Linked DNA regions of Homo sapiens: region 2 is linked to region 1. Evidence: fine-mapped expression QTL. Tissue or cell type: testis. Region 1 holds a variant in brackets; the other region holds the start of a gene. All regions are shown on one strand. Distances are between the middles of the regions.

What was found. PIP is the estimated chance that this variant, and not a neighbour inherited with it, causes the effect.
Region 2: it holds the start of PXN, and the variant in region 1 is fine-mapped to the expression of PXN in testis (GTEx, PIP above 0.99).

What each region holds. Positions count from the first base shown.
Region 1 is chr12:120,241,006-120,243,761 of GRCh38, forward strand. All of the region lies in intron 1 of PXN (paxillin), which reads right to left. Among named protein-coding and RNA genes, the nearest start is that of PXN, 23 kb to the right of the region's middle. The variant T/G (reference allele first, on the strand shown) is at 1,118.
Region 2 is chr12:120,264,336-120,267,091 of GRCh38, forward strand. It overlaps PXN (paxillin), which reads right to left and starts at 1,395. Exons shown (of 15, transcript NM_001385981.1): 1 at 1,282-1,395. The coding sequence starts at 1,294. RefSeq lists silencers at 1,113-1,262, 1,423-1,702.

The sequences.
Region 1 (2,756 bases):
TAAACTTTATATCAGAAGTCTTAATCTGGCATCTGGAGCTGACCCTCCTGGGGATCTGTGGACCACCTGAAGTTTCACTACCATGTCCCTACCACACTACTCTGGGGAGAGATCCCAATAGTCATGGCCCAAAGGGGTTGGGAATCTGAATGAAACCACTGCCATGGGCAGGCCTGACAGTGCACCACCCTGCCCCTGTCAGATCACAGCTTGGTCCTTTGAAGACAAGTCTGATCACTAGGGGCTGAAGCTGAAGCTGCCTCATCTTCACCTCAATCCCAGGTGATCAGAATTTCTGGAATGGGACCTGCCTGGACACTGACCCAGGCAGCAAACTCCAGTGAAGCCACCCCAGTTCAGGAGGCACAAAACAGATGTGGCCTCGCTTGGGTATCCAAGGCAGAGCCACCTGCACCTGTCTCACGTGCCTCCTCCAAGACCCTCCCTCCGATGCTCTCACTGGGACAGCCTCACCTTTACTAGTGATGGCTCCAATCGCGTTCACAAACACATAGTGTGCACGGGCACTATGCTGGGCATGGGAGGGGCAAATATACAATGCCTGTCTCCGGGGAGCACTGACTAGTGGGAGACTGTCATAAACGAGGGGCAGAAGGCCCTGAAAGCGGCAGTGGGCCAGGAGGAAAGGGGAGGGGCTTTCCAGGCAGAGGTGGAAAACAGCCTGGGAAAGTGCCCAGACAGAGGGGATGGGAGCTCAGAGTGCAAGTCCCAGCTTGATGGAAGAGGAGTCAAGGGCCGAGGGCCCACTGGGGAGTCTGGACTTACAAGGGCAAGCCACAGAAGGAAGGCGGTCAGCAGCGGAACAGCAGGACCAGGCTTGCACTTTACATCACTCAGGCAGGGGAGATCAGAGGGAGGCAGGGCTCAATTGGAGGAAGAGCAAGAGTTGCAATACTCTACATGAAATCAGGTAAAATCAATGTTACCTGGAAACTGAGTGGATATGGAGAAGGAGTGAGGAGTGCAGGATGCCTCCCATGTTTGTTTCCTGCAGGAGGGATGGAACAGATGAGACAGGGAAGAAGGTCTGCGGCAGGGGTCAGGTAATGACGGTAACAAGGATCAGGAGTTACACCAAGAACAGGCAGAGCCACAG[T/G]GTTCCCTGAGCCAGGGCCCAAGGACGTTTTTCTCTGGCCAAGGCACCTATCTAAGTAACAGTTTGTTAAATTATATGGTACCCTTCTCCTGAACACAAGTTGTTCTCCCTGTCTGGCTTTGGGAGAACCTCAGGAAGTTGCATGCAGCCTGCTCTGGGAATTCTCAGAGTGTTCAGGAAGACCATGGGCTCCCTTCCTCTGCCCGCACCCATCTGCACGAGTCTGCCTCTGAAATTCAAATAGAAAGCCAGCCCCATCTCTGACAGCCGTCCTCCAGGAAAAAGAGGGGTCAGCCTAAGCAGGTTATCAGAGGAACCAGATCCTTCCTGCCACATGAGCATGCGGCTCACCACTGGGGCCAGAGGGCCCAGGACACAATCTCAGGCCTCAAACCCTCATGGAAATGCCCTTCAGAACTGACCCACGGCCCCAGCCCCAGCTGACCACAGAGAGACTTTGCACAGATAAAGCTCATCTCATGGCCAAGTGTGGTGGCTCATGCCTGTAATCCCAGCACTTTGCGAGGCAGAGGCGGGCAGATCACTTGAGGTCAGGAGTCCGAGTCCAGCCTGGCCAACATGGAGAAACCCTGTCTCTACTAAAAATACAAAAATTGGTGTGGTGGTACACGCCTGTAATCCCAGCTATTCAGGAGGCTGAGGCAGGAGAATTGCTTGAACCTGGGAGGCAGAGGTTGCAGTGAGCCAAGATTATGCCACTGCACTCCAGCCTGAGCGACAGAGCGAGACTCGGGCTTTAAAAAAAAAAAAAAAAGCTCATCTCACTGTAGGATAACAGATGCCCCAAAGGCCAGCCCCATCTCAGCTATCGTAGCAAGGTCATCCCCAAAAGGTCATTCCAATGAAGATGCAAAGCCTAATGACTGTCCTTGGCCTTGTGGCTCAGGATAAGTTTGATTAGCTTGAAAGATCCAACTGGACACAGGGCACCAAATCACTACCAATGAACTAAACACACATGCTTGCACACACGTCCGCCCTCCAGGCCTCTGCATGAGCTATTCCCTCTCCCTAGACCTCTCTCCTGTCTTCTTTACCAGGCTAAATCCTTTCTAATCCCTTGAGACTCATAATAGCTTAGTTTATCTTCTTCAACGAGAGGATAAAAAGGATCCATCCTGCCTACCTAGAGAAAAAGCAACGTGTTGCTTTTCTGCTGGGAAGGTCTCTTTCCAAAATCTTATTACAGAATGACCATTTAAGTAAAGGACAAAGGTTGGGGCCTTTTCTAAATGTTGAGGTTCTATTTAAACACACAACAAAAGGCCGGGCATGGTGGCTCATGCCTGTAATCCAAGCATTTTGGGAGGCCAAGGCGGGACGATTGCTTGAGGGCAGAAATTTGAGACCAGACTGGGCAACACAGCAAGACCCTGTCTCTACAAAAAATTTTTAAAAATTCGCCAGGTGCTATAGCACATGCCTGTAATCCCAGTTACTTAGGAAGCTGAGGCTGGAAGATGGATTGAACCCAGGTGTTTGAAGCTGCAAGTGAGCTATGATGGCATCACTGCACTCCAGCCTGGGCAACAGAGAAATCCTATCTCTTAAAACACACACAAAACAGAGTCAGTTTAGGATCCCATTTCCTCCAGGAAGCCCTCCCTGACCTTACTCT
Region 2 (2,756 bases), 23 kb after region 1:
AGTGGTCACACAAGCCACCCACAGTCCAGAGAGGAAAGACAAGGCTCCTGCAGAGAAGAAACGTTGCCCCCCTCCTCACCTCCCAAGCTCAGGGCCCTCCAGCTACAGGCGTGAAGGGGAGGGAGAGACAGCGAATCCTCCCACTCCTGCGTTCACGCCACCCAAGGCATTCCTAGAACCCTGGCACCAACCCCCTTGGGTTTAGAGTCGGCTTCCAGGAGATACTTTCTTTCCCCTAACACCAGATCAAGACTGGACTGAAAAGAGTAGCCTTGGGGCTCCAATAACAGGAAAACAGTAAAACTCTGTTCTGGGCATCCTGTCCTCTTTCACCTGCGTGGCTTCCAGCAGGGCCTGACGCAGAGAGGGTGGAGGGGACTCTGCTAGCCAGGACACGTTCAGGGATGGTCATACCTTGGGGCCCACCTTCCACCTCATTCCCCTGGCATTTCACCAGAATCTAGGGGTGGGGAGAGAATCAGGACTCCCAAATTACCGTTCTAGACTTAGATACCATGGTAGACGGACTGGTCTGTGAATTGAGGGGCTGGTCCACAGAGCGGGGAGGTCAGTGAGAGAAAATGAGTGATGGGTCCTTGAAACGGGGTGACCAGATTTGAAGTGGGGGGTCAGAAGAGCAGGCAGACTGGGAAACTTGTCTTTGAAATGGGGGTGTGGTCATCACACGCTCATCTCTAGCTTTTGCATCTGACTTGTGAAATGAAAGGGGTGGGCTCCGAGGGGTTATCCCTGAAGGGGGGTGCTAGTCTGTGAAGTGGGGGGCGGCCCTGGAGGGACGGGGAGCAGGTCGAGGAAATGAGGGAGCAGCCCATGAGATCGGGCAGCTGCTCCCCGAGTTGGGCGGTCGATCTGTGAGGTGGGGGTGGGGAGAGGTCTGCGAGGTGAGGGTCCCGTAGCTGACGAGGTGGTCTGCCGCAGGAAGTCTCGTCCCTGCAGCGGACGGGGTGGGTCCCTGAGGGGCGGGCTGGTCCCTGGGGCCCTTCTGGGAGATGGTGATGGGTCCCCGAGGTCGGGGGTCCAGAGGTGAAGCCGTCCCAGACGGGGGGTCGCTGCTGTGCGGTCGGTGCCGGGGCCGGCCTGGCCCGAGACTAAGGCCCGGTTAGGGATCCCAGCCCCGCGGAGCCCCGGCCGGCAGGGACAGGAGCTGAGGCCGGGGCCGCCGAGGGTGGGATCCCGCGGCCCCTGCCGCTCGCTGGCGCCCTCCTGGCCCCAAGCTGCGCGCCTCTCGCCTCCTCCTCCCTCGGCCTCCCGCTCACTCACCGAGGTCGTCCATGGCCGGACCACGGGCGCCGGCTCAGGGTCGCGCTAGCTGCCCGTCCCGGGGCCGCTCGTCTATGCCCCGCAACTTTTCCGCCGCGAGCCTCGGCCCGGAACGGAACGCGCCGCCGCCGCGCGCGCCCGCGCCCGCGCCCGCCGCGCGCCCCGCCCCCGGCCGCCCCCTGTGCACGCGCGCCCCGCCCCCGGACACCCCCGCGAGCTTGCTGGCCCCGCCCCCTGCGCACGCTGGTCCCGCCCCCGCCAAGAGCCCGGGCAGTGGGCGTCGCTGGGCGGGGCGGTGGCGCCCCCTCGCGGCTAAGCGGGCAGGTGGGCGGCTCCCAGGCCTCCAGCCACTCCCATCCATCTTTCTGTCCCTCTCAAAGTCACTTGCCTGACCCTGCGGATGACAAATCCGTCCACAGTCAGCCATGTGTCTGTGCATTCGTCAGCCACTGGGTCATCACATGCCTGTCCACTGGACAGTCAGTTTTGCCCACCTGTCCGTCTGTCACCTGTAGGTCACCACCCAGGAGGACCATAAATCAGTACCAGGCAAGGCCCGGAGCCCGTGGCTGACCTTTCCTGGGGTCGTCCTCTGGATCAATGGCAGTGCAGCTCGCAGTTCACCCTTTCTGGCCCAAACCCAATACCTGTGTGGTTCCATCTCTCTTAATATTACTTCCACACAGCCACCCTCCCTAGACACTTTTCCAAAACTGCATGGGGCAGAGGGGTCCCCAGATTAGACATTAAAGGGAAAACTACAGGAAAGTCACACCCAGTGCTCCCACACACTCGGAAATTGGGTAATAATAACAACTACCATTTATTGAGTGTCTGAATAGACAGACACTATATAGCTATTCTCTAAATTAATCCTCCTAGAGGTACTTCCCTACCCGTTGGGATGGGTGATGGCAGTTTGTGGATTTTATATAAAACTGCTCTGCAAGTACAGCTTCGAGTTCCCCTTGTCCCTCAAGAATCCAGGCCTTCTGGGTCAGATCAGGTCCTCCAGAAAGCAGATGAGATGCTGAGATAAAGCTAGGGGTAATGCCCGTGACAGAGAAGGGGAAATAAGCAGGGTTGGGCAAGGAGACTCAGATCTGACAAACAGGTCAACCCATCAGGGAATTCCAGGACAAAAAAAATGAGAAGTCTCCTTGGGCAGAAGTATCCGGGTTCCAATGCTCCCACCATGTTCAGTCATTTTATAAAGGCAGATCCAAGCAGCTTCTGTGGCTGCCACATTCTCCTATAATAAATTCAAGACCAAAGACTGTTCCTCAAACACTCTATTGCGTGGTTTTCCAGCATCTTGCACATACCTCTATTTTGTTTTAGTTTTTGTGTTTTTGTTTTTGTTTGAGATGGAGTCCCAATCTGTCGCCCAGGTTGGAGTGCAGTGGTGCAATCTCAGCTCACTGCAACCTCCGCCTCCCAGGTTCAAGTGATTCTCCTGCCTCCTGCTGGGATTA